4 linked regions of the Homo sapiens genome follow. The protein of the gene in region 2 interacts with the protein of the main gene of each other region in a biochemical or structural test. Each region holds a gene or a part of one and is shown on either strand. Other genes may lie near its edges. The genes, in order: CSNK1A1, SNCA, SNCAIP and CSNK2A1.

Region 1 (8,028 bases), on a different chromosome or scaffold from region 2:
CCAGGCGTAGTAGTGCAGCTCTGCAATTCCAGCTACTTGGGAGGCTGAGGCAGGAGGATCACTTGAACCTGGGAGGCGGAGGCTGCAGTTAGCCAAGGTTGCGCCACTGCACTCTAGCCTGGGCAACAGAGTAAGGCTCCGTTTCAAAAGAAAAAAAAGCCGGGCACAGTGGCTCATGCCTGTAATCCCAGCACTTTGGGAGGCCGAGGCAGGCAGATCACCTGAGGTCAGGAGTTCGAGCCCAGCCTGGCCAACGTGGTGAAACTAAAATACAAAAATTAGCTAGGCGTGGTGGCGGGCGCCTGTAATCCCAGCTACTCAGGAGGCTGAGGCACGAGAATCACTTGAACCCGGGAGGCAGAGGTTGCAGTGAGCCAAGATCGTGCCATTCATTGCACTCCAGCCTGGACCACAAGAGCGAAAACTCCGTCTTAAAGAAGAGGCTCCAGTAAACAGTAAGTACCATTCTTACCTATTCTGAATAATTTTGCAAATGTTATTTTAGATTATTGCTGGAAAATAGCTGGGCTTTAAACTATATTTTAGTCTCCATTCCATGAAGAGGATCTTTAATCCCAAAAGTTAAAACATTAAAACCCTCCAAAGTAAAGTTAACCATTTGACAGAACAATGTCTATCTCGTCATCTTTTATCCTCGTTACTGCTATTTGCACTCACCAATATTCCACACCAACAAAGGCCCCAATTTCTCTGATGTGAAGATTTACTGACAAACTCAACAGGTTAAAATTACTTATCAAAGTGTGGCTAAGTGATTAAGATTTTTTTAAATACAACTGATATGAGTAAATTTTAACATAGTTGGTGCTGCTCAAACTGCCTTTGCCACTACCTATACAAATTTAGTCCCGACTGAAACGTGCCAAATATGACCATTCACGAAAAGAAAGAGTAATTAACACTTTTAAAAGAACTACGAAGGATTTTACATAGTGTAATTCAACAATTTCGTGTCACATCTGCTGCAGAGATCACAAACACTGTCACTATGCCATCTCCTTCCTCGAACCTCCACACCGCCTCCTGCAGCTTTATTCTTGGCTTTTCAAAGGTTTAATCCACTCGGGGCTGCTAAAGGAGGAATCAAGGAAGCATAATTTGTGAACTCAAGCTGAGAAAAGGGCAGGAATATGGGGTTGAGTCACGTCGTTCCGCCATTTTCTAAGCGGAGGAGGAAGACATGTTGGAACAAAAACACAACAAAAGAGCAGCCATTTCCCAAGCCAGCTCCAATAGCAACTCGAACTGACACTGCCGGGTCGCTTCGGCACCTTCAAATCCACTTCACTGGACAAACCTAAGTACATCAGAAGTGCCGCCGTAAAAAAGGCAGCAGCCAACCCTTCCGCGTAGGGATCAAAGATGACCTGCACGCATAACTGCAAATGAAAGCCTCGGGAAGAGTGAGAATGACGGAAGCGAAATGGAGCAGTGTAATACAATGAAATAAGTTGGCAAACTGAAATTTACTCAGTAATTGAGATGACTGACTTACAGGAAACCACCAGCTATAGGGAACCCAGGTAACTAAAACACCAAGACCCGGATTCAGCTGGTCTCATTACCTGCCTCTACCCACTTCCCCATTCCGTGCTTCCCTCAGCGGATCGCCTATATGCACCGGGTTCTTACCGTATGTGGGGGATGCCAACCCCACCTTGAAGAATCTTATAGAGCTTGCTCTCGTACAGCAACTGGGGATGCCTGGCCTTCTGAGATTCTAGCTTCACTGCCACTTCCTGCAGGGGAAAGAGGGGATGATGGCATCAACATCCCTACGGATTCAATGTCACTTAGGAAAGGAGGGAGACATTAGCAAAACTCCAAGTCGCGACTACAAGAAGAAGTGAAAAGCTGGAAAGAGAAAGCTCTCGGTAATTATAAAACGAGGCAACCAGCCTCAAAGGCCTCTTCAGGGGGTAGTGACGAAATCCGTACGTCCTCTAAAGTGCAGGAAAATGATTCATCCAGAAAAAAGAGGCAACCTCTGAACGTAGTGAGAGGTTTTTAAGGAACTAGGCGATCGGAAACTGTTCTAATTGGAACAAGAGGCCCAGTAGAATTAAGAATTAAAAAAAAAAAAACATGGGAATCACTGAAAGAGGATTTTGCCGTTTCCACCTTAAAAGACGGTTAAAAAAAAAAAAAGCTCGACTAAGGGACATTTATGGGACGTGTTTAACAAGGTGGGAAACTAGTTCCCCCAACCTTTCTATCGGGTTCTTGACCCTTTTAGGGAGACAGCGGACGAGGTTCGTAAGCCAGGAAAACTAGCTCCCTGGACTCCCTGGCGAGTGCGTGCGATGAGGAGAGGCCCGAGCACTTTGGGGGTGCACGGTGGTGGTGGGGGGAATGAGTAAAAGCGCAGCGTTATCGTGAACCCCACCCCAGATGATTACCTCGCCGTTGGTGATGTTGATCGCCAAATAGATGTCCCCGAAGGAGCCAGACCCGATCTTCCGTACCAGTTTATATTTCCCTCCGACAATGAATTCAGCCTTGGAGCCGCTGCTACTCGCCATCCTGAGAGACGAAGATGGAGGCTGGGGCCAAGCCCCGACACCTCTGGGAAGAGGACGGAGGCCTCGGGGCTCCTACACTAGGCAAGGCTACGGAGGAGGGCGGCAGGAAACGGAACACGGAGGCCTTTACCGGGGTTCGGGGCCCAGAATCAGCAGAGGGGAACCTGATCACCGCCGCTCAGTCAGGTTTCTTTTTGCCAGGCCGCAGTTTGTGAAGGGCTTCTCGGCGGTTACCAGGCTGGGCCACTTGTTTCTCGGCGGCCGCCGCTGCCTCGCTTGCGCGGCGACGTCGCGGGCTGGAAAAGGGGCGCGGTGAGCTAGGGCGGCGATACCGCTGCCACCACTGCCGCCGGCTCCGGCCCAGAGGGACCCCTGTCACTCCGCGGACGACGCCATCTTGTTACTCCAGCTCCAGCCAACACAAAATGCCCCCAGTCCCCGGGAGCCGCTTCTTCACGGCGCAGAGCACTCTGGGAAAGGGATCTCGGGCGCTCGCTCCGAAGGATCGGCAGCGAGAGGGCGGAACCGGATCCGTGAGAGTCGCGGCCCACGCTCCGAGCGTCACCCTGTCACCGCCCAGCTGCGCATGAGCGCTGCAACTCCTGCTGACTGCGCAGGCGTGCCGCGGCCTGTCCTCACCCCCGTCCCGGGCTCTCTTCCACTTCCGGTCGGCGGCGGCTCAGCAGGTGTTACCTGTTACTCGCCTCGGACCCGCCGGGTCTCTGGAAGGCTGAGTGGCCCCCCGGCCTTGATATTGGGAGGAGTCACCTTCATGTTTCGTGGCAGATGAAAGCTTAAGGCCTCCTTAGGAGTTGGGTATTGACCTGTGCTCTTTGAGGCGGTTTTTAACCTTTGATCTTTCTTCTGGCCGTTCCCCCGGACCGGCCTATTCCAACCCAGTTTCTGTTTGGAAAGAGGCTGTCGCCTCTGGTGGAGAGGAAGAGAAAAGCAGCCAGCGTCGAGGAATCTCTCAGGGCTCTCGGTTGTAGCAGAGCCTAGCTAATTACCCTTCATAATTAGAATTGTCCTATCTACTACGGAGTGTTATAGACCCTCTTTCCACAGGAGGGGAAGAAAGAAAGAAGCCGGAATCCCCCTGCCATCCTATGTCTTTGCATTATTGCCTCACTACCACATATGATCTTCAGAAGAAAACCTGGTATGTTGCTCATAATGAAGATTAAGGATAGATGGAATCAACAGAAAATTAATTTAACAAGAGTGAAAAAACTGTTATGTCCCCTCAACCCCACCAAAAAAAAAAAAAAAAAAAAAAAAAAGAATCGTATGTTGGTCTTGTTGAAAACCTCAGTATTAACCTGAACAGAGTAGAGGTAACTATTACAAAATTTAATTGACAACATTTAAAACTACACGGTAATTTTTTTCTTTTTTACAAAAAATCGATCAGAGAATCAAATTTTGACCACGTTTTGTTTTACAAAATTTGACCTGGGAAAATTGGGCTTAGTAATAATAATGTTCACGAAAGAAAACTCCATGGTTGATGCTATCATCTTAAGTCAGACCTCAGTCGTAAAAATTTAAGCTAAGCCTATCCTAAATAAAATTTAATTAAAATAGAAATGGGGGGCGGGCGCAGTGGCTCACGCCTGTAATCCCAGCACTTCGGGAGGCCGGGGCGGGCAGATCACTTGAGGTCAGTTGTTCGAGACCAGCCTGGCCAACATGATGAAACCCCGTATCTACTAAAAATACAAAAATTAGCCGGGTGTGATGGCGCACACTTGTAACCCCAGCTATTCGGGAGTCTGAGAATCGCTTGAACCCGGGAGGCGGAGGTTGCGGTGAGACTAGATCACGCCACTGTACTCCAGCCTGGGCAACAGAGAGACCCTGTCTCAAAAAAAAAATAATTAATTAAATAGAAATGGGAGAAAAATGTGAAGAATTTTAACTGCAACTTTGAAAGGTGGTCAAGTAATTAGTAATAGGGTTCATCTCGGAAGACAACTGAAGAGAGAGGGGAGGAGACTTCCCCTGAAGTTTAGCATGAAGTTTTTAAAGCCCAACCAACACTCAGGGTGCCCAACTCCCAAATCAGCACTGTTAGACATCATTCTCCTTTGGTGACTCTAAAGCATGTTTTGACTAAGTTAAAATCTGCTGTTAAATTCTGATATAAAATGCAGCCGGGCATGGTGGGCTCACACCTGTAATCCCAGCACTTTGGGAGGCCGAGGCGGCTGGATCACCTGAGGTCGGGAGTTCGAGACCATTCTGGCCAACGTGGTGAAACCCTGTCTCTACTAAAAATACAAAACTTAGCTGGGCATGGTAGCATGTGCCTTGTAGCTCCAGCTACTAGGGAGGCTGAGGCAGGAGAATCGCTTGAACCTGGGAGGCAGAGGTTACAGTGAGCCGAGATCGTGCCACTGCACTCCAGCCTGGAGACAGAGCGAGACTCCACTCCATCTAAAAAATTAATTAATTAATCAATTCTGGTCTTAAAAAAAAAAAAGCCAAGTTTAAGCATCTTGAGTTTTCCAGAGATCACTCCTTTTCTGCTAATTTTCTCACACACATCCAAAGTTTAATGGATTCCTCAGCTTGAGGAGTTCTCCATAAGGGGATGAGGTATACATTTAGACGGATATTTTGGTATTGTGATAAAAATGCTCAATGAAGCCGGGGGCAGGGTAAGGGTGGGCATGAAGTGGTCTAAATTAGTGATTCCCAAAGATCTGTGTATGGACAGGTGCAAGTGGCTAACAAAGTTTGCCATGAGGATGTGAGAAAAGTAAGCAATACATCTTTCATTTATTTATCTGATTTCACATTATATTTCATTCTGAGATTTAGTCTTTTCACATATGTGTCATTAAAATGCTCTTTTATAAAAAGGTGCCGATGGTAGATGGTTTTGGTTTTTAAAATATTCTTGCTCGGTTAAAAGTTGAGCCCGGGTGCAGTGGCTCACACCTGTAATCCTAGCACTTTGGGAGGCCAAGGAAGGGCAATCACCTGAGGTCAGGAGTTCGAGACCATCCTGGCCAACATGGTGAAACCCTGTCTCTACTAAAAACACAAAAATTAGCCGGGCGTGGTGGCGCATGCCTGTAATCCCAGCTACTTGGGAGGCTGAGGCATGAGAATCGCTTGAACTGGGGAGGTAGAGATTGCAGTGAGCCGAGATTGTGCCACTGCACTCCGGCCTGGGCAAGAGAGTGAGACTTTGTCTCAAAAAAAAAGTTGAAAGCTGCGTACGGTGGCTCATGCATGTAATCCCAACACTTTGGGAGGCCAAGGCAGGAGGATCATTTGACTCCAGGAGTTCCAGGCTGCTGTGAGCTATGATCAAACCACAGCATTCCAGCCTGAGCAACAGAGTGAGACCTTGTCTCAATAAATGAATGAATGAATGAATGAATGATAGGTACTTGTATGTCTAATCCTCCTCGCCTTTTTTTTAGAACTTGTGTAAGCCCATTAAATTCTACTGGTCTAAATGACTTCTGGAAACCCTTCTAACCCTGAGATTCTATAATTTTGTATATAAGGTATGAGTCCTCCTTTGTTTCCTGCCTGCTATAGTCACCATTCCAACACTGACAGTGCCCAGCAAAATGCACAAAAATGAGATGTGAGTGGGTCTAGCCTTTTCAAATGTGATTTTAGTTTCTTAAGATTTAAATTTATTGGATTTAAGAATGGCAAAATTGTTTTTTTTTTTTTTTACATAGAAAATGAAGTCCTCAGGTGTTGGCTATGACTCAGCCTTCTTCTTAAAGTCATGTATCATTTGCAGTAATTTTAGCCTAAAAGATTGAAGAATAACCTGTTTTTGGTGTTGCTGTTAAAGTCACAAATCATTCTGTACTTATTGAATCAGCAGCAGCTTTGGTGTAATGAAAGGAGTCTTTTAGGCCAGGCACGGTGGCTCACGCCTGTAATCCCAGCACTTTGGGAGGCCAAGGCAGGCGGATCACAAGGTCAGGAGTTCGAGACCAGCTGGCCAATATGGTGAAACCCCGTCTATACTAAAAAGTACAAAAATTAGCCGGGCGTGGTGGCAGGCGCCTGTAGTCCCAGCTACTCAGGAGGCTGAGGCAGGAGAATCGCTGGAACCCGAGAGGCGGAAGTTGCAGTGAGCTGAGATCGTGCCATTGCACTCCACCCTGGGCTACAGAGTGAGACTCTGTCTCAAAAAAAAAAAAAAAAAGAAAGAAAGAAAGGAGTCTTCAAAGAGCAATTTCTGGCTTCTAGATCAGATGAATTCACTAAAAATATCAAAAGTGTAGAATAAAAATAAAAATTTTAGACCTTGAGGGAAATACAGAGATCACCTAGTTCAATAATAATAATTGTATTTTTTAATGCTTTGCAATTTACTTATGAGTCAAAGTCTCACTCTGTCACCCAGGCTGGAGTACAATGGCACCACCATAGCTCACTATAGTCTAGACCTCCTGGGCTCAAGCAATCCCCCTGCCTCAAGCTTCCCCAGTAGCTAGGACTATAGGCAGGCACCACCATGCCTGGCTAATTTTTTTTTTTTTTTTAACTTTTTGTAGAAATAGTGTCTTGCCTTGTTGCCCAGGCTGGTCTTGAACTCCTGGACTCAAGTGATCCTGACGCCTCATCCTCCCAAAACGCTAGGATGACAGGCAAGAACCACTGTACCCAGCCTGCAATTTAGAGTACTTTCACACATATCATTTGTGCCCCAGTAAGACAAAGTGGCTTGCCCAAAATCATAGAGATCTTAGTGGCAGTGACAGGACTAGAGCCACAACTACTACCAAAAGAAAGAGAAAAAGGAAAGAGTAGAACACAAATTAGGACAATCATGTCCCAGGGATTACTTCTGTGTTCGTAGGGAATTCAAGATGAATTTTAAAACTTTTTTTTTTCTTGGCTGGGTGTGATGGCTCATGCCTATAATCCCTGCACTTTGGGAGGCTGAGATAGGAGGATCGCTTGAGGCCAGGAGTTCAAGACCAGCCTGAGCAACATAGACCACATCACTACAAAAATGTTTTAAAATAATAAAAACAAAAACCATTTTTTTAAGCCACAGTGTTTACTCAAGCAACGGTCACTGGTATCCAGAATGTGCTTTGAGTGAAATGATAGAGACAAGCACAAGAAGTCTAGATGGATGCTAAAAACAGAAGGGTAGCCTGCCAATCTCTAGAATTGTTTGGTGCAAGTAAATAGAAAAATGGAATGCCTTAGAAACGTCAGTGTCCCAAGTGTTGTTTATTTTATTTATTATTTATTTTTGAGATGGAGTCTCACTCTGTCGCCCAGGCTGGAGTACAGTGGCGCGATCTCAGCTCACTGCAACCTCCGCCTCCCGGGTGCAAGTGATTCTCCTGCCTCAGCCTCTTGAGTGGCTGGGATTACAGGCACATGCCACCATGCCCAGCTAGTTTTTGTATTTATTTATTTATTTATTTATTTATTTATTTATTTTGAGATGGAGTCTCGCTCTTGTTGTCCAACCTGGAGTGCAATGGTG
Region 2 (7,031 bases):
GAGTTAATTTTAAATATTTTATGAAGTGTGAATTATACCTTTTTAGATGGAATTTGGAATACTGAATCAGTGACATGCAGTTTATCAATATCTTTCCGTTTGTCCTCAGATTTCCAAGTTCTGCAAGCACAAGTTTCTTTGACTTAGTTACCTTTTAACTGTTCATTGAAATCATTTTCAATGTCTCTCATGGCATTTAACACATAGCACATTCTATAAATTTTTTATTGGTTACATTCTGAGTTCTAATTGAGAGTTGAACTTACACACAGAATTTAAGATAAAAAATGACCATGTGAAGACACAATAGTATAGTCCAGGGATTGGCAAAATTTTGGGTAAGGAATCAGATAGCACGTATTTTAAGCCATGAGATCTATGTCTTGGCCAGGTGCCGTGGCTCAGGTCTTTAATCCCAGCACTTTGAGAGCCCGAGGCTGGTGGATCACTTGAGCCCAGGGGTTTGAGACCAGCCTGGGCCACATGGTGAAACCCTGTGTCTACAAACAACGCAAAAATTAGCCGGGTATGGTAGCATGCATGTGTATTGCCAGCTACCCAGGAGGCTGAGGTAGGAGGATGGCTTGAGCCATACAGCTCACTGCAGAGGTTGCAGTGAGCTGAGATCGAGCCACTGCACTCCAGCCTGGGTGGCAGAGTGATACCCTGTCTAAAAAAAAGAAAAAAAAATCTATGTCTCAATTCTGCTGTTGAAGTGTGAAGGTAGTCATAAACAATAACTAGTGTGGCTGTGTCCCAATAAAACTTCATTTATCAAAACAGGTGGTGGGCTGGAATTGTCTTGTATGTTGTAGCTTGCTGACTACTGATAGAGTGGAAAGAACATGCACTAATCACACAAACCAAAGTTTTAGTTGAGACTACATCACTTATCACCTTTAGGGTCTTGGGGAAGCGTACTTAACATCTCTGAGCATCACTTCCCTGATTAGTAAAAAATATGATTTAGAAAACTGCAACTACCTTGCAGTTTTTGTGGGAATGTCATAATAAGACAGGACATATGAATAATTGAGCACACTTTTATATATAGGAACCATGGTTATTATTATCAAATAAACTCTCCAACGGAATAATTACTTTGCCAACACGTTTTCCATTTATTCTTTTATCCTTCATTACATAACTAGTTTGAAAGATTGGAGGCGACCAAAGACCATTTTATAATTTCACTTATGGCTGAAGATGTTTGGTAGAAGCCTCATAAGAAAAGTAATCTCATTCCTTTATAAGAATATACTTTTAACAACTACTTTTTAACTCATTGAAGAACTACCTTAATGATCAGTGTTATTTTTATGGGTTTTGTTCCCTCCATTTTTGTTATCTGCGTACACCAATTTTCAATCAACATACTTCAATTTAATAGACAAAAATTTCTTCAAATGACTCAGAAATTAATTAGATCTAAATCCAAAAGCAGAAAGATTTAATTATCTTTATATAATGCTCAGTAATATAAATGCAATAAATACAAGAAAATGATGATCTTTGAGTGTCTTCCAATGCCACTCTGCTCAATAAGCAGCAGTGGCCATCAGTGAAATTGATAGCAAATTCTCAAGTCAAAATGTGCTTCACCTCACTAAGCTGACAAAGTCAACATAACATGCACAACAGGGATAACTGAGTTCTCAAAACTCTCAGGTATTACTTCTGACCTTCTTCTCCACTCTGTGCTCTTTTGAGGTTGGGAAGACAAGATAGGGTGTGTGTGGGACACCTCCGCTCAGGGAAGCCATCAGCTCTGGTGTCCCTACAGCATTTATACCTTGCTAGTCACATAACCACTTGGCACCTATTTTGTAGGTGTACGTTATCAATTACAGATTACTCATAAATTAAAGGCTAACCATCAATTACAGATTATTAGTAAATAATTATGACCTCAAAGAACAACTGATTGGTTTGATACATGGTAACCTTATGAGGACTCTCATTTATCTCGTTTTTTTAAGTTATATACCTATCTCTTTGGGGTTGCACTACAAAAATATAAAATATGTTGCATAAGATATTTATAAAAAATAATTAATTATAAGTTCTAATGGTGTGGTTTAGTGGCATTCTTTTTTTTTTCTTTTTTTCTGAGATAGGGTCTCAATCTGTCATTTCACTCCAGGCTGAAGTGCAGTGGTGTGATCTCGGCTCACTGCAACCTCCGCCTCCTGGGTTCAAGTTATTCTCCTGACTCAGCCTCCTGAGTAGCTGAAATTACAGGCATGCACCACCATGCCCGGCTAATTTTTGTATTTTTAGTAGAGATGGGGTTTCACCATGTTAGCCAGGATGGTCTCGAACTCCTGATCTCATCATCCCCGACCTCGGCCTCCCAAAATGCTGGGATTACAGGCGTGAGCCATTGCACCCGGCCTAGTGGCATTCTTTTTTAAAAATAAATTTAATTGTGTATATTTAGGGTATGCAACATGATGCTATCAGATACATTAGACACTAAAAAATTACTATATTGAAGCAAATTAATATATTCATAATCTCTCATAGTTACCTTTTTTGTTGTTTTTGTGGCAAGGGCAGCTAAAATCCACTTATTTATCATGAATCTCAAATATAGTACAATTTTATCACCTACAGTCCTCATACATTAGATCTGTACACTTTTTCATCTTACACATCTGCTACTTGCTTGGATCCTATGGCCTATATGTCCCTATTTTCTACCTACTTTTCCACCCCTATTAACCCTGTTTTTTACGTAGTCTCTGTATATTTGAATTTTGTTTCAAGCTTCCACATATATGTGAGATAATGTAATATTTTTCTTTCTGTGTTTGGCTTATTTCACTTAGCATAATTTTGTCTGGGTTCATCCATGTTGTAAATGGTAGGATCTTGTTTTTTTAGGGCTGACTGATATTCCATTGTATCTATGTACCACAATCTTTTTATCTACCTATCTATCAGTAGACACTTTAGTTGTGGCTATTATGTTTTTCTTTTTTTCTTTTTTGGAGACAGGGTCTTGCTGTCACCCAGGCTGCAATGGAGTGGTGTTATCATAGCTCACTGTAACCTCAAACTTCTGGGCTCAAGAGATCCTCCTGCCTTGGCCTCCCAAGTAGCTGAGACTACAGGCATACATTACCATGCCTGGCTAATTTTTAATATTTTTTGTAGATATAGCATCTCACTCTGTTGCCCAGACTGGTCTCAAACTCCTAATTCAAATTTAGAATAGAGTATGACAATTCTGTAAAATATAAAAAACATGTCCACTCCGTATAGGAAGTTATACAATGAGAAGAAGACAAACACTATTTACATTACTCTTGATAAGTTTTTTACAAAGAAATAAAACACTTTAATTTCTAATGTTTTAAATTCTGGTTTGCTAAATAAATAAATATTAGTTTTAGTGTTTTTAAAATTCCTTATATAGTTATAAGTGATCTTCCTGCCTCAGCCTCCCAAAGCACTGGGATTCCAAGCAAGAGCCACTGTGTTGGGGCCCTTGGAAACAGATATGCTGAAATCTTTTCTTGTGGATCTACACCCAGAAGAGGGATTGCTGGGTCATATGCTACTCTATTTTTAATTTTTCTTTTATTTTTAGTGAATATGTAATAATTGTATATAATTGTGGGATCCAGAATTATATTTCCATACATGTATACAATGTGTGATAATCAAATTAGGGTAATTAACATATCCATTACCTGAAACATTTATCATTCCTTTGTGGTGGGAACAGTAAAAATTAAAAATTCTCTCTTCTAGATTTTTGAACATATGCAATAAACTATTGTTAAGTATATCACCCTACAGTACTACAGAATGCTAGAACTCATTCCTCATATTTGGCTCCAATTTCATATTCTTTAACCAACCTCTCCATATCCTCCCCTCCCTCTTACCGTTGTCAGCCTCTAATAATCATAATTCTACTCTCTACTTCTATCTCATTGTCTTTGATTTAGAATATGTTTCATAATTTAACCAAAGGTCAAATTCTTAGGTACTGCTAAGGCAAAGAACAAAGATCGCATTCCAGCTGTTAGACATTTCTTACTACTAGTCATTTTTAAGACAACATGGGGTGCAGGTGGTGAGGATGAGAGATAGAGATTGAAACATATTCTCTTAAATATCAGCTGTTCTCACTCTGCATAGTTCCAGCACAAACAAATTCCAGGTACTATGGTTAGTTAAATAACACCAGCCACTAACAACACAATTCAAATTTCTGTTACCACAGTATACCGAAAGTCATTGCATAAAGTACAAACTTTGCTGCTAACTCTTCAGCCTTCAAATCATTACATAAATAACAGAAACCCATTATAATCAGTGACAAAACCACAGCACTTCTTTCAAAGCTTTTTGGAGATTGGTTGCTTCACATCTGTTATGCAGTTCATACAGACAGCAATGCCCGGACTTGTGTGGCCACATTGTCTCCCAGTGGTGAGCCCATGTGATGTTTCACGAAAATGCGCAATCAAAAGAGGAAACTGGCCAGCAAAGATGAAAGAGTAGCAAACAAAGGAAGTGAAACATTCTGGAAGTAAAATTTGAATCAAACATAAGTTGATGTATACAGGAAGTAGCTACCCTGAGGATGTTGTCACTGCTGCAATTCAGGAGACTCTAAATATGCAGTCAGAGGAACGTAGTGAGGTGAAGGTATCCGTATAATGGGGAAAGAGGTTGTGATAAAGAGTGAAGGTGTCCCAGAGGAAGTGTTGCTGAAAAATACACCTTATGTTAAATACACTGTCAGTATATCATGACATTAAAGTGCAAATGATAACATTTTGTAAACTGATCCAAACTTAAAAAGGAGTATGATAATTCTGTAAAACATAAAAATCATGCCGATTCCATAAATTATACAGTGTGAATTACACTGAAAAATCCAACATTAGAGAGGATATGAATACAATTTTTTACAAGCATAATTTTAATAATACACATAATAATTATTTGTATTCAAGTTTAGTAATGTTCAAGGTTTGGAAGAAATTCTGATCCTGTGTAGAGACCCTAGTTTGAATGTGCTTATAGCCTATTATTACATGTGTAATGTTACATAAATTACTTAACTCGGATTTTTAATTTCATCAGCTATTTAAAATGGGCATAATATAACTATATTAAATGGCTGTTATGAAGATTAAATAAGATGATATGTAAAATGTGTTTTTTGTTTGTTTGTTTGTTTGTCTGTTTGTTTTTTTGAGACAGAGTCTTGCTCTGTTACCCAGGCTGGAGTGCAGTGGCACAATCTTGGCTCACTGCAAGTTCTGCCTCCCGAGTTCATGCCATTCTCCTGCCTCAGCCCCTCCCAAGTAGCTGGGACTACAGGCACCCGCCACCACGCCTGGCTAATTTTTTGTATTTTTGGTAGAGATGGGGTTTCACCATATTAGCCAGGATGGTCTCGATCTCCTGACCTCGTGATCTGCCCACCTCGGCCTCCCAAATTGCTGGGATTACAGGCATGAGCCACTGCGCCCAGCCTAAAATGTTTTTTTTACATAATGGGTGTTCAGCACATGTTAAAGCCTTCTCTCCATCCTTCTTCCCTTTTGTTTCATGGGTTGACTGATCTGTCTCTAGTGCTGTACTTTTAAAGCTTCTACAGTTCTGAATTCAAAATTATCTTCTCACTGGGCCCCGGTGTTATCTCATTCTTTTTTCTCCTCTGTAAGTTGACATGTGATGTGGGAACAAAGGGGATAAAGTCATTATTTTGTGCTAAAATCGTAATTGGAGAGGACCTCCTGTTAGCTGGGCTTTCTTCTATTTATTGTGGTGGTTACTGGAGTTCCTTCTTCTAGTTTTAGGATATATATATATATTTTTTTCTTTCCCTGAAGATATAATAATATATATACTTCTGAAGATTGAGATTTTTAAATTAGTTGTATTGAAAACTAGCTAATCAGCAATTTAAGGCTAGCTTGAGACTTATGTCTTGAATTTGTTTTTGTAGGCTCCAAAACCAAGGAGGGAGTGGTGCATGGTGTGGCAACAGGTAAGCTCCATTGTGCTTATATCCAAAGATGATATTTAAAGTATCTAGTGATTAGTGTGGCCCAGTATTCAAGATTCCTATGAAATTGTAAAACAATCACTGAGCATTCTAAGAACATATCAGTCTTATTGAAACTGAATTCTTTATAAAGTATTTTTAAATAGGTAAATATTGATTATAAATAAAAAATATACTTGCCAAGAATAATGAGGGCTTTGAATTGATAAGCTATGTTTAATTTATAGTAAGTGGGCATTTAAATATTCTGACCAAAAATGTATTGACAAACTGCTGACAAAAATAAAATGTGAATATTGCCATAATTTTAAAAAAAGTAAAATTTCTGTTGATTACAGTAAAATATTTTGACCTTAAATTATGTTGATTACAATATTCCTTTGATAATTCAGAGTGCATTTCAGGAAACACCCTTGGACAGTCAGTAAAATGTTTATTGTATTTATCTTTGTATTGTTATGGTATAGCTATTTGTACAAATATTATTGTGCAATTATTACATTTCTGATTATATTATTCATTTGGCCTAAATTTACCGAGAATTTGAACAAGTCAATTAGGTTTACAATCAAGAAATATCAAAAATGATGAAAAGGATGATAATCATCATCAGATGTTGAGGAAGATGAGGATGAGAGTGCCAGAAATAGAGAAATCAAAGGAGAACCAAAATTTAACAAATTAAAAGCCCACAGACTTGCTGTAATTAAGTTTTCTGTTGTAAGTACTCCACGTTTCCTGGCAGATGTGGTGAAGCAAAAGATATAATCAGAAATATAATTTATATAATCGGAAAGCATTAAACACAATAGTGCCTATACAAATAAAATGTTCCTATCACTGACTTCTAAAATGGAAATGAGGACAATGATATGGGAATCTTAATACAGTGTTGTGGATATGACTAAAAACACAGGAGTCAGATCTTCTTGGTTCAACTTCCTGCTTACTCCTTACCAGCTGTGTGTTTTTTGCAAGATTCTTCACCTCTGTG
Region 3 (7,000 bases), on a different chromosome or scaffold from region 2:
TTATGTACCTTCTACTCAGAGATTTTTAATCTATCAAAACAAGCCCTAGGGCATACAAATTAAAAAAAATTATTTTCTTCTACCTATATAAATAATCTACCATTAGGAAGACTAATGAGAACTGTATTTTATAAACACTAAAACAGCAAGGCAAATCTTAACACTCATTAGCACTGCAAGAATATTTATCACTGACACATGCTCATTGATGTCTACAGAACTCTGTCACAGGGCTATATCCCAAATTTGCCATCCTATACTTGTGTTACTGATAACTTACCAGTCTTATCCACTAGCAATAATATTAGCTCCTTAAGAGTAGGGACTATGACTTATACAAATTTGTATTGCCAGCCACCAAACGCAGTACCTGGTAAACTTGGTACACTTTGTTAAGCTCAACTATATTAAATCTCGACTTTACATTTGACTTATCTTTCTTCATGATAGCTGCCTGTAGTTTAGTTCTATTTATCTTTCTTCATGATAGCTGCCTGTAGTTTAGTTCTATTTATCTTTCTTCATGATAGCTGCCTGAAGTTTACTTCTTAATTCAACATCATATCACTTACAACCAAAGCAAAATAATACCTACCAGGGTCATAGATTTATTTTATTTAAAAAATTATCTTCTATGCTAGATTTGAAGTATACCTTATTAATTACCTTGCTTAACCGAGCAAAATTAAATAAAATGGAAATTATTTTTTAATGTATAAAACTTTGCTGAATCATCAAATTAAAAATACAAAAAAATCAGGTTTGCGTAAAAAATATATTAAGGTAGAACAGCAGTTAATGGTTTTTTAAATGTAACGTTCTTTAGTGAATTCACATGTAGGTTTCTCTAACAAATTCCCCTCACCAATTTCAATATAATTAAATTTATAAAAATTATGATTATTCAGCTTTTAGAAGACACAACTATTATGTAAAGCAAAGCACATATGCAAAAATACAAGATGTATTATATTTCCCTGAATGTCACTTCTGGCTTTTTAATAAATATGATTGGATTCTACATTTATTTGCCAAAGATCTTTTAGGTAATTTTAGTTGAATAGCTAATCTTCTAGTGATGTGCTATATTTTGCAGAGGCACTTGCTGCAGTGCTATAAAAGTCCATGTTTCTTGTCTCACAGTTTCTAGGTTTTAACTCTATTCCAGTCGACATTAATTTGTGTAGTTTTTGGTAGCGTACTGTGCTCTGCAAGAGCTAAACTCAAACTCGGCACTGATACTCTAAAAAATTCTTGATACTGAAGACACTCAAACTTCAGATGTGATCCGTTAAGCGCCCACTTTGTGATCTGAAATACTCCCGAGTGCTAGCATCCTTAAAACACACCTTCCCCACATTCGTCTTGCTCATTATTGTCATATTAGGAAGAAATGATAGTCTTTGATAGATCCAGGTGTGGTTAAGAAGCTTAATTGCAATCCCTATGAATAACAAAAGTTGTTAGAACTACAACATATCATTTTCCTTTCTCTTTAGTAGCAGATTGACAAAAACTGGGAATTAAGTCTCAAAATCTCAAAGCAGTGACTGAAATGATTACTCTCTTAAATGCAATATGTTCATTTGCTCTTTGCTTGACAAATCACTCTCTTCTCTCCCTTCCAACACTTTAGCTCACAAGGAATCTTAAAAAATAGAAATCCAGCTTCTAGCTGTGGAGGTTCCAGCCCCCAACCAGTCACCTTAATGGCCAGGCCTGCTGGAGTCAACTTCTCAGTGTTGCGCTCATTGAGGCAGTCTTCTCCCATCAAAGAAGTGAGGTGCTGTAGACACTCTGCGTGTCCCTGTGACGCCGCAATATGTAATAGATTGTTTCCATTTTCGTCGTGAATTTTGTCTAGATTGTCTGCAGCTAGGTGTGGCTGTATAAATAGTAAGATTAGAAAACCCAAGTCAATAAATCAGAGCAAGACCCTGTAGGAGTTTTTCTCTGGGCACTGGAAAGAAGAAATGAGCTTATAGAAGCTCTGGTGGCAGCCTTGGGGATCTAATAAATCAGTTTCTTGCTATTATTCTTTGTTACAATATGCTTTAGAAAATGAGTTCTCGAGAGACAGATCTTCATACGAGACATGGCAACAGGGCTAGGGCCAATGAGGTGTGGAGGCTTCAAGTTGGCTTTCTAAAGAACTATAATTACATTTACAGTAATTGTCAGGTTCCCTGTCTGTCTCCCCTACTTGATTGTGAAGTCCTTGAGGGCTGGGGCTGGGTTTTATTCCCTGTTCTATGTTTGTTGAATGAATGAGCTATTTGTCTCTACCTGTTTATTTTGCCTTGAATTGTAGAGAACTGGCTATGGCAAACAACATGATGACTGCTGCTACTAGTGCTCTCATAGGTACCTCTAGACACTGTCATCAAACAAACTCCTGGGGGTATCTGGAGGCTACATGGCTTTGGTTTCTCATCTCTAGTGAAGTTTTTGTCCCTTGACTATGAACTCGTTGATAGAGATTGTTGGGTGAGCTAAGAGGTGTTTTTAGCATTTGGGAAACATGAAAACATGAGAAGGACAAAAGAAAGGAATGAACCAAAGAGAATTAGGGGGAAGAGCCAGGAAAATGGAAAAGACATTTTCAGGAGAAAAAATACTACTTTATTTCATAAAATTATTCAATTATATTACCCTATCACAATAGTATTTGTGATAATAGAGCAAGTACATTGTACTTAAGTATGCATGGCTTTATACTAAGTAGAATCACATTGCCAAGATGTGATGATTTTCTTGAATGAGACTTTAATTAGCATCATAGTACGAGCCCAGGCTTGCTACTGTTTGATCCAAGTCTGGAAGCCAGAAAAGAACAATGTAGGCAGATGGAGTGCTATTTAAGTTTAGCTCTCTCTAAGCCAAAGCAGAACAGACTTTTCTTACATCATGTTACTCTGTGTCTAGAGTCTTTGGAAAAGCTTCTTCATGCTCCCTAGACATGCAGAGCTGGAAGTAAGTAAAAACTCCACCTGGGTCAGAGGGCAATGAAGCCCTTGGGTAAGCTTCTATCTACAAATGCTTTTCAAACAACCTGGTCCAATTCTTCTGAATAATGATCAGGACAAAACAGAAGACCCTCTGTTTACATGTCTGGCAGGTCCACCATCAGCCAAGAATTGACATCCTCACAAATAGCTGCGTGAGAGCACTGGGAACCATTTGAAAAGCAAAAAGAAAGACATTGAGATTCAAGTTAAAGAAAGTGCCGGGCTCTCTTTGAGATTAAGAGTCTTCAGTTGAATTCATGCAAAGTTAAAATGAAATAACACTCCCTCTATAGTTATTTGTTTTCCCTGTATTAACTTCATAACTTCTTATTTTAAAACTCAAAAGGTCACATCTCCCAACTAAAGCCACAAGTAAAGATTAAGTAAAAACCAAAACAAATGCAGCATCGTTCTGTTACTAACGAATGCAGTTTATTAAAAAGGAGTCTCCAGTCTATTGACATGTATACTGAACTAGATTATACTTACCAGGAGAGAGATCTGTCCTTCTTTAACAATGTTCAAGATGCTTTTCACTTTTTTCAGATACTCACTCCTTTCTTCTGGGCCTTGGGAGCTGGTCCGGTTTAGGCCACTGACCTGCTCTTCTGGTTTGGATTCTGCTGCTGAGGATTGTAGGTGGAAGGCCCTGAGCTGGCAGTCTGGTGTTGTCTTCTCAACTTTTCGACCATGAGGATCACTAAATGTCTTGTTTAGGAAGTCTTTACTCTGGTTTTCAGGCTCATATGCAGAGCCACATTTAACCAGAGGAGGTGAGATCTCGGTTTCTTCAGTGGACAGCTTGTGCTGGTCGTGGATGACAGCTGATGCTTTTCTCAAGTGAGGGCTTTTCACGGGAGAAAGAACACAAAATGGTGCCATGTTGGATGATGAGCTCTCAGAACTTCCTGTAGAGCAGGCTTTGCCAGAAAGGCCATTGATGGTTGTGCATAAGCCCAAAATTCTTTTTTCTGAAGTCACCTTGGTAAAAGAGGCAAGCTGCTGACTGGATTTAATATAAGGCACATCCAGAATCTCATCCATGTCGAGGTCGTAGTGCTCCAGTTCACCCAGCGATGTGCTGGGCTCAGAGCTCTTACCTGGTGGGCCGCCCACTCCATCTCCAGGGCCAAGCTCCTGAGGCTGGGGGCCCAGGTCAGACTCACCCCCTTTCTGGTACTCAACCACTTTCTGGTTCTTTTGGTCATCACTTTCATTGTTCTCCAGAGTCTCTGGCTGATGTTTCAGTGGCGAAACCCGCTTCACTGGGCGGAACTTACTGTACACATCAGCGATTCCTGTGGGCTTTTGCGTGTTTGTAATAAGAGTTGAGATGCCACAATTCCAGCTAGAGCTAGAAACTGTTTTTAAAAAATTAAAATAGAAAGCTATTAATCTGGAATGCTGAACACATCTTGGCTATGCAGGTAGATGTGGTTCATTCACATTATGTTCAAATTAAGGTTCTGTGTGTGAGGATGACTTAGAGTGCACATCAATAGAACAAAAAAAATCATACTTACCATTGGAAAACAGTGAATGATCAAAGAAGGTTATAACACAGTGACTCAAAATTAATTAAAGTAATAATAATGGTACAGGTAAATGGCTAAGGAAGCAAACCCAGATAGGTATTTAGGTTTATTCCCTGGATAGATCTACCTCCCTGGCAATATTTTTATATTTGTCACCACCCTGAAAAACAAGATTAGAGAATAAGATCTTCAGTGTTAAATAAACTTCCAAACTGATTTAGGGAGAAAAGGGACGTATGCACACATGCACACACATTAGCGTGCATGTCCACATACACCCCTAATGCACAAGAAGTCCCATGAAAAGAAGTGGCAAATTATTTAATATTGAGCAAATTCAAACTATGACCTCCTTGAGTGACTCCCTAGGTGTGCCATTAAGTGGATTAGGGAAAGAATAGGAAGGAATACAGTGCTCAGGAGTTGAAAGGACTGTGGGAGAGAAGACATAGTTGAGTTAACCCCACCTTGGTCAAAGTACCCTGGTCAACTATCATGCAGCAACATTTCATGGTGCTTTCTGACATATGACACAGTGACAGAATGCACTAACACTTCACAACAGAACATGTTCTTTAGGATTCAATACTGCCCTCCATTGTTGAGAAGGCTGGAAACAAACAGGAGAAGAAAGTTCTGAAAAGAAAATGGGTCAGGCAGAGTGGTTTTTTTTTTTTTTTTTTCTAATTTCTGTGCAAAGTTTGGATAAAGATTGTGTGTTGGTTTGCATTTGAGTAAGTGTCTGGTTGCGATAGAGTAGAAAGTGAAACAGCCAGACACACCTGGAGGTGAAAGATAAGAGCCATCTCTCCTGGTTATGAGAGGCTGCCTGGTGCCTTCTCTTGAGGCAAGCAGATGGAGCAATAACAGTCTCCTCAGATATGATTATACTGCTTCCTCCCTGGGCCACTCCACTGCTAGATAAAAGATGACCCAGTACCCTTGGAAACTTGCAGGCCACTGATTTATGGGTTCCTAGTTCCCTGCCATGTAGTTCCTATCATCCCCCATCAAAGGATGAGATTTCAGGGGGCATGCCCTACAACTAGGGACTTTCCATTTACCGCTTCTCTTCTGAAACAAGTGGGAAGCATGTGTATGTGTGTGTTCTTTGCTACTGGGAACAACCAAAGAAAAAAAGAACATGAGATGGGTGTATACTCACATCTATAACTTCTGCCATAGCCTCTGGCTATGACTGATTCTTAGGGTGAAAGTGGAACATACATTATTAAAGTTCCCTAAATTTAAGCTACTGGTCATTCTTCTTCCTGCTGGGATATGTTCTAAAAGGATTCAGAGAAGTTCTGGAACCAAGCTAACGGGATGAGAGTGAGTGCTCTGAGCCTGAATGCTATATAACTATCAGTGAGTTCTTTCCCTGAAATTGACCACAGTTTTGCATGAGGTTTCCAAGGGTCTGCACTATGCAGTCCACTTCTCAGACCTTTCTGGCTCTGACATTTTAGAATCTAAGAAGAGAATACTACGAGCTGTGGAAGGAGGGCTCGATTCTCTCCAATAAGTAATGTAGAAGAGAATGTTCCAGAAGGGAAGGAAGGTATCTAGATGGTCTTAGGCTGCTGCTTTTCTTCCCTTTTGCTGGCTTTAGTTCTCAGTTGTACACAGTGCTTGGCATAGATCAGACAATTAACAAATGCTAGTATGTGAATTTGAATCTCACTTTGCACAACACATTAAATCTTCTAAAATGCACAAAGTGCATCCTTCTGAGGGATTTACAGTTTAATTTCACAGGGGACAAAATCCTGTTATAAACTCAGTGGAGTGATAATCACCAGTAAGAGATCAATTTGCTAAAGTTATTTATGAAATGTAAATATGCAAAGGCAAAGACTAATTACAGTTGGTCTCATAAATTTAAGAAGTTTTCTATCTTTTATATGAACTTTTCTCTCTAAAAATATAAAGCCATGAAAAATTAATGACTGCCAGAAATTTCTGCCAAGTCTTCTCTCCTCAAGAACACATGGTTACTTATTTAATTAAAACAGCAGATAGTGGACATAGAGTTTATAAGATGCAAATATGCCTTTAATTTTATTCATCAACTTTCGGCAAGGCTTTAAATAAAATGGAAAAAAAAATATATATATACTCATAGACATTTCTGAGATACACTCTTATTACTGAGTATATTTAGTAATATTTTGCCAATTACCTTGATTTCTTTGGAAGCTCTAGAAAATGTGCATCTCAGAATGTAATAAAAAATTTTAAAGCCACATAACTTAGTAGGTCAATACAACGAGTGCATTGTACCAATATATTTATGTATTATATAAGGTCGTAGGTTCAAAGGGCTACTCTTTTATGTTGGCTTTATTTACATGTGAAATTTTTTCCAAGTGATACAGGGAAATGGATACCATATGTTTCCCAGCTGTTTTGTTCTGACAGGAGCCATTAAAAACGCTCTATGGAAATGAATTCTGT
Region 4 (7,395 bases), on a different chromosome or scaffold from region 2:
TGCTGCCATAACAAATTACCACAAATGTAGTAGCTAAAAATAACACAAATTTGTTATCTCACAGTTATTGTAGGTCAGAAGTTGGGTGGGCTTGGCTAGCTAGGTCTTTTGCTTAGGGTCTCACGAGGCCAAAAATCAAGGTGTCTCAAGGTTGCATTCCTTGGTGGAAACTGGGAAATTCACTTCCAAGCTCAATCAGGTTGTTGACCAAATTCAGGTTCCTTCTGGTTGCACAACTGAGGTCCCCATTTCTTTCTGGTTGTCAGCCAGGGACTGGTCTTTGCCACTAGAGGCTGCCCACATTCCTTCTGATAAACTTTCCATGTGGTCCTCTCTAGCAAAGGCAAATGGAGTCCTTCTCATGCTTCAAATCTCTGATTTCCTTTTCTGCCCATTTCTCTGATCCCAGTTGGAGAAAGTTCTCTGCTTTTAAGGACTTAAGTGACTAGATTCGGCCCACCCAGAAAATCCAGGATAATTTTTCTATTTTAAGATTCTTAACCTTAATTACACCTGCCAAGTTCCTTTTGCCATGTAACACAGGATAGCTACAGATTCTGGGGATCAAGGTATGGCACCTTGGGAAGAGGGAGATGTAATTCTGCCTACTACAAATCCAAGTCCTATGGAAGGGTTTAAACTCACTTCCTAAAGAAAATCATCCCTTTCTTTAACAGAGTGTGAAGTAAAGATGTATATATTTTACTTATGTGAAGTAAAGTATATATACATACATACATATGTCTTTACTTATGTGACACAAAGATGTATGTTCAGAGATAGAGACAATAGTAAAAACAAGGACTCACTCTGGATGAGTGAGTAGGAAAAGGACGCGCAGTATGGAAAAGGAGTTGCCACCTGTTTCATCCTCAAATTGCAAGGCACTTCACCCATAACTACTTAGAAACTAACCCATGCTCCTCCTTAAATGTGTATTTCTCTTCTCTGTATTCCACAAAGGAGTACATAACTAGGCTTTTTTTTATTTTTAAAGAAAAGTCACCTCACGGGGACCTAACTGTATAATCAGTTGATTAATCAATCTAAGCAAATTTCCAATCTTGCATTCTTTCTTCAAGTCATACACCCTCCCGCAATAGCAAACCAAAGCCAAGTATTTCAAAGTCACAGAAGGACAAAAACATGCCCTGCTAAGACTGCAGGTGAACTTTTGAGAATACCACGGAGGAGAACTAGTATTGGTACTGGACTTTCAGCCCCAGGTCCACCAAGCCAGTAAAGCCAAATGACTTACAACAAAACCCTACAACAACTACAAAGATACTACTCTAAAGCCCTGTCTACAGTCAAATTCTTGACTATAAATTTTACTTAGAACAGAAGAGCCCCAAATATACCAGCTAGTCCCTTTACAGTGACAGGTAAAAGCTACTTACTACACTTACTACCTGCCAGACACTGTAGTAAGCACTTGACACAAATTGTCTTATTTACTCTTCTCCGTAAACTCACAAGCTAGAAAATACCATCATCCCCCTTTTACAGACGGGAAAACTGAGGCTTAGAGAGTTTAGGTCACACAGCTAAGTAGCAATGGCCCTGATATTTGAGAACCTAGGCAGTCTGGTTTTTAACCACTGGGCCTACACTGCACTCCTCAGATGGAATGAAGTCTCCAATTCTTGGAAAAATCTTCCCTTCTTAGTTTTCTTTTTTCTTTTTGAGGCGGAGTCTCGCTCTGTCGCCCAGGCTGGAGTGCAGTGGCGGATCTCAGCTCACTGCCACCTCCGCCTCCCAGGTTCAAGCGATTCTCCTGCCTTAGCCTCCCGAGTAGCTGGGATTACAGGCGCGCGCCACCAAGCCCGGCTGATATTTGCATTTTTAGTACAGACGGGGTTTCACCGTGTTGGTCAGGCTGGTCTCGAACTCCTGACCTCGTGATCCACCCGCCTCGGCCTCCCAGAGTGCTGGGATTACAGGCGTGAGCCACACGCCCGGCCTCTCTTCTTAGTTTTCATTTCCTCTCCCCATGTCCCATTCTCGTAGAATTAAACAGCTGAAAAGTAATCAAGTCTTCCCAAATAATTTGCCACCTTCTTTTCAAAACTCTTTCCTCCACACAAAGCAATAGCCAAGATGCAACTTCTCCTGACCCTGACTCTGCTTCCCCAAAACAAACTACAGAAGCTCCACCCATCACCTGCTTAATCTAGCAATGTTCCAACACTGCAAAAAACACACAACGAAAAACAAAATTGAAAAGTCCTACTCTTTCAAAAGGTCACCAACATATGTATACCCTTAGCCAAGCTTTCTCTCCATACCTCTTTTTCTATCCAGGCTCCTAACTAGTCCTTAACTCCAACTCCAGACGTTCTGCCCCACGTCTTGGTCCCTTCCCCCTTTCGCCCCAGCAACCCCGCCTGGGGTTCTCTCCACCTCGCACCCACTCTGCAGGTGGGAAGCTCAGCCCCGCCCAGAGGGACCCTAAGAAGGCCCCTACTCCAGCTGCCCAGTTTCGCGGGAGGGTTCACTGCACACTACCCAGCAGGCACCACTCCCTCCGCACCCTCCCCCAGCACCCCCCTGCGGCCCCACCCCTCAAGTTCCCTTCCCCCTCTGACGACCCCCTCCTCCAAGTTGTCCCCTAGTCCCCACCCAGTTCAGTCCTCTCCTCTGCAATAAGCTGGACTCCGGCAGCCGGTTCCCACCCTCACATCGGCCTCTGCCCCCAAACCTCGCCCTCCGCCCTGAGGGGTGGCCCCTGGGCCTCCCCGATGGGCTGCAGGGGCCTCGCTTGGTTTATGTGTGAAGGTGGGGGCAGGGGAAGGCGACGGGCCGCTCAGGAGTCTGCTGGAAGCGTGAGGGTCGGCCGCGCTCCGCTGCCCTATCCTGGGCCCACCCCACCCGCCAACGACCTCGCCTGGCTGCTCCCTAGGTACCTGTGGTGGAAGCGGCAGCGGCGGCGGCCGCTCTCCCCTCTGCTCACACAGACAATATGGCGGCGATGGAGGAGGAGACACACGGCTCGGCCGCCAGCCGCAGGGACCAGAGCGAGGCTGCAGCCGCTGCTGCCGGAAGCGGAAACCCCCTCCTACCAGGAGGCGGGGCGAGACAGCTTCCGACTCCGCCCCCAGAGGAATCTCTCTGAATGCGGCCATGCTGGGATGTCCTATTGTAACCTTAGGGATTCAGTTCTGGCCTAGGGTGCAAAATGGAAGGAATCCCCAACGCAAAGCAGAATAAGGAGACTTGCAATAGTTAAGCGCATTTTATTTCAATAGTGTTAACAAGTGACAACAGAGAGAACACGAACCTCCCATTAGGTGAACAGTTGGTTTGACCCAAGTTAAGATGGCGGTACCCAGGTTTCCCACACTTCACCCAGCTGGCCCCCCTTTCTTGAAAAGAACCATGCGCGACCTGCAGAGCTGTAGAGCCAAGCATTCTGGGAGCTGAAGTCTCTTTTGCTCTGACCCCTCGTTTTAAATTAGGGTTTCAGCAACACTTTCTATTCAAACTTGGAGTTCGGAAGAAGTGAATGAAAGTTGGACCCTAGGAAGGGCATGGCGCAGGAGTCTGAGAAGTGAGGATACTAGCTCTCAAGAGACCAAGGCCCAATTCCTTCCTCCTACAGGAGTCCTGCCAAGAGCTGTGCGTCCAAAATACAGTGTTTTTTTTTCCTTCTATCTGCCTCCCACCCCTGCTCTCCTTGCCCGAGCTACCTCCCCAAAACAGCCACAAAGCACTTTCTACCATGCAGAGCTCATCATGGTCTCCCTATGGTCAAAAATCTCCCATGGACCTCTTTATGCACCAAAGATAGCCCAAACTCTTCACTTGACATTCAGAGTCCTCCATAATTTGGCCAAACCCTCCTTTCCAGCCTCCTATTCTGCCACTCTCTTCTCAAATTCCGGAAGATTCCACCCACAAGACTGCAAACAATTCCTGGAACTTAGCTGTGTTGCCTCCCTCCCTTTACACTGGCAGTTACTTCTCTTACTGTCACCTCATGGACTGGATAATTTCTGTATGCCGATTGAACTAATTCAGGGATCCTTTCCTCTAGGGGTCTCCTCTCTGTTTAACTCCCTCCAACCCAGACACTATCAGTCAGTAACCTGAGGACCTCAGTCTGTCTCCTCCATCAGACTGGGAGCCCCCAGTGGACAGGGCTCCATCTGATGATCAACCTCTCCTTTGCAGGCCCTGATAAAAGCTGAAGCGTCTAAGAGTTGCTGAAAGGAGTTCAAGTATTAGTCTCACCTCTGGTGGGACAGAGGTGTGAGCACTGGAACGAGGGTGAGGAGGCCAGGTTCTTTCAGTACCAACCATTATCCCTAACTGTCTCAGAATAGCTGGTTGTCTCAGGAATGGGCCTCTCCACCCTCCACAGCCCTGCCTTCACAGTTTGTCAGCTGACTAGCACCTCTGCTCCCAAAGAGGCACCTCTTCCCCATGTGGGGTTAGGGCTGGTGGTGGCTGCAGACTTATAGTGATGGCCTCAGGGAGGTGGCTGTGGCCTTCTCTGGACCTCATCTGCTAGACAGCTTGTGACATCTGATCCCAATTGCCTGGGAACCCACAACAGTTTTTCTCTCAGTGTCCTGTAACTGGGCCTCAATTTCCCCACTTGTGGACTGAGGAGGTTATACAAGATAATCCCAAAGTTTCTGGGAAGCCATCTTCCAGGAAATGATACCCTTCTACCTACCTCTCGAACGTATCTTTTTGGCTCTTGTGGCTTTGTTTTTCCCAACTGTATTCACATTTGTTTAACTCACAACAATTCATCATTTGCTATGAGCCAGACACTGTGCTAGGTACTGGGGATGTGTTATGAGGAAGACATACACCAGTTGCTCACTGGTGGAGCTTACCTTCTAAAGTGAGAAGCAAGTAATGCACAGGTAAACAAATGCATAAACAAAGTAATTTCAGGTAGCAATAAGTGCTACGAAAGGAAAAGATAAGTAGCTGTGAAGTATAGAGCTTTAGCTTGAGTGGTTCAGAAGGTCCCTTTGAGAAGGAAACAGTAAGTGCAAACGTCCCAAGGCAGGAAAGAGCATCACAAGTTTGAAGAAGGAGGCCATGGTGGCTGAAGCACTGCAAATAAAGGGAAGAAGAGGAAGAAATATGGTGGGAGAGGTGGGCAGGGCATTCAGGTCATGATAAGGAAGCTGGGTTTTCATCTGAGTGTAGTGAGGATATTTCCCATTGCTTAGCCTTCATGCCTTTCCAATCTCAGCCTCTCTCACAGCATTAGTTCTTCATTCTTCTTCCTAGTTCTGGCCTCTATCCATGACTTCATTCAGAGGGCTCACCTGGGCACACATATACAACCCTCATACTCATGCAGGACATAATTGAAACCCAACTCCTGCCGTCTACTACGCCAGCCTCATGTAGGTCTCCGGTCTCAAGAGGCTTCCCATCCCAAGTGTTCACCTAGTTGTAGACTTAACATTTATCCTTAACTCTTACTGTCTCTGATCCCCCACATCACACCTCTCAGGCTAGTCTTTCTGCAAACAACAGCAGCAGAAGCAAGAGTTAAGATGTTGAGAGTACTTGCACTGTGCCACACACTGAATGTTCATCATCTCACTTAATCCTCATGTCAACCTGATGAGGTAGAAACCAAAAGTATCTCACCGTACAGATGAGGAGACTCAGGTTCACAGAGATCACAGGCCATGCCCAAGGTCACATGCCGGAGATGGAGCTTGCATTTCAACCTGGGCCATTAGAGTGACTCTCTCTCTCTCTCTCTCTTTTGAGACAGGATCTTGCTCTGTTGTCCAGGCTGGAGTGCAGTGGCATGATCACAGCTCATTATAACCTTGAACTCCTGTGCTTAAGCGATCCTCCCACCTTAGCCTCCTGAGTAGCTAGGACTACAGACATGCACCACCATGCCTGGCTCATTTTTAATTTAGTAGTATTATTATTACTATTATTATTATTGTACAGATGGGGTCTTGCTATGTTGCCAGGGCTGGTCTTGAACTCCTAGGCTCAAGCAGTTCCCCTGCCTTGGCCTCCCAAAGTGCTAGAATTACAGGCAAAAGTTTTAATCATGCACTAAGAACCTAAGTGTATTTGCTTTCTATTGCTGCTTAACAAAATCACCCCACAATATAGTGGCTTAAAACAACAATATTTTATGTTTGTGTGGATTGGCAGTTTGGACATGTCTCAGCCAGGACAGCTCTTTTCTGCTCCAAGTGGTCTTTCCTGGCTTACTCTTACGTTTGCTGTCAGTGAACAGGCCAGCAAACTGGTTAGAACTCCATGGCCTCATTCACATGTCTGGCAGTTGGTTGGGGTTGTTGGCTTGAGTGCCTTGGTTCTCCTCCATGTTGCTTCTTCAGTAAGCTAACTCAGGCTTACTTACATGACGGCCCCCAGAAGAAAGAAAACAAAAGCAGCAAGATCTCTTCAGATCTAGGCTTAGAAATGATATAGCATCATTTTCACTGTATTATATCGATCAAAGGCAGTCATATGGCCAGCTCAGATTCAAGGAGAGTAGAAATAGATTCCATCTCTTCATGAGAAAAACATCAAATCATACTGCAAGGAGTCATGTGTATAAGGAGGGTGGAATTGTTGTGGCCACCTTTGCAAACATTATATCACATAAGTAATCGTAGGCATGGAACTGGTTAAAGAAATTATGGTACAGCCAGACATGGGGCTATTCACAGCAATGAGAACTAACATTTTTGAGCACTTAATATGTGTCAGACACTGTACAAGATGCTTTACATCTATTAACTCATTTAATCCTCACAACAGCTCTCTGTGGCCAGTACATTTTTAATCCCCATTTTAGAGATTAAGAACACCAAGTCTCAGAGAGGTTAAACAACTAGTCCAATGTCACACAGCAAGTGACAAAGCCATTGAAAAGAATGAAGACAGTATTATGTCCTGACATAGAAATCTGGCCCTGACATTCTGTTATACGATACAAAGCAAGAGACAAACAGTAGTTTGATCAGAAAACATTTAAAAAGCACATTTAAATAATTAGGAGATGTGTGTCTTTTTTTTTTCTGAGATGGAGTTTCACTCTTGTTGCCCAGGGTGGAGTCCAATGATGCCATCTTGGCTCACTGCAACCTCCGCCTTCTGGGTTCAAGCGATTCTCCTGCCTCAACCTCCCGAGTAGCTGGGATTACAGGTGCCCACCATGCCCAGCTAATTTTTGTATTTTTAGTAGAGATGGGATTTCACCATGTTGGCCAGGCTGGTCTTGAACTCCTGACCTCAGGTGATTGCCTGTCTTGGCCTCCCAAAGTCCTGGGATTACAGGCATGAGCCACTGCGTTCAGCTGGAGATGTATGTCTTATAAAAATTAGTAGAATAAAAATTTTTATGTCTTATAAAAATTAGTAGGCCGGGCGCGGTGGCTGATGCCT

The links.
Region 1: of the proteins of SNCA (region 2) and CSNK1A1, one has a biochemical effect on the other in vitro, tested with the Homo sapiens proteins (3 studies listed by BioGRID).
Region 3: the proteins of SNCA (region 2) and SNCAIP form a complex in vitro, tested with the Homo sapiens proteins (3 studies listed by BioGRID and IntAct, with this or other methods).
Region 4: of the proteins of SNCA (region 2) and CSNK2A1, one has a biochemical effect on the other in vitro, tested with the Homo sapiens proteins (3 studies listed by BioGRID and IntAct).

What each region holds. Positions count from the first base shown.
Region 1 is NC_000005.10:149,548,422-149,556,449, forward strand, and holds the start of CSNK1A1 (casein kinase I isoform alpha), read right to left. Parts: upstream 3,019-8,028; 5' UTR 2,544-3,018; coding exon 2,421-2,543; intron 1,945-2,420; exon of another isoform or gene 1,761-1,944; coding exon 1,654-1,760; intron 1-1,653. Other genes in the region: ARHGEF37 (rho guanine nucleotide exchange factor 37), read left to right, coding at 3,681-3,702.
Region 2 is NC_000004.12:89,827,131-89,834,161, reverse strand, and holds part of SNCA (alpha-synuclein), read left to right. Parts: intron 1-5,977; coding exon 5,978-6,019; intron 6,020-7,031. UniProt on the Homo sapiens protein: Neuronal protein that plays several roles in synaptic activity such as regulation of synaptic vesicle trafficking and subsequent neurotransmitter release.
Region 3 is NC_000005.10:122,420,237-122,427,236, reverse strand, and holds part of SNCAIP (synphilin-1), read right to left. Parts: intron 4,370-7,000; coding exon 3,498-4,369; intron 1,886-3,497; coding exon 1,706-1,885; intron 1-1,705. UniProt on the Homo sapiens protein: Isoform 2 inhibits the ubiquitin ligase activity of SIAH1 and inhibits proteasomal degradation of target proteins. Isoform 2 inhibits autoubiquitination and proteasomal degradation of SIAH1, and thereby increases cellular levels of SIAH.
Region 4 is NC_000020.11:540,766-548,160, forward strand, and holds the start of CSNK2A1 (casein kinase II subunit alpha), read right to left. Parts: upstream 3,026-7,395; 5' UTR 2,907-3,025; intron 1-2,906. UniProt on the Homo sapiens protein: Catalytic subunit of a constitutively active serine/threonine-protein kinase complex that phosphorylates a large number of substrates containing acidic residues C-terminal to the phosphorylated serine or threonine.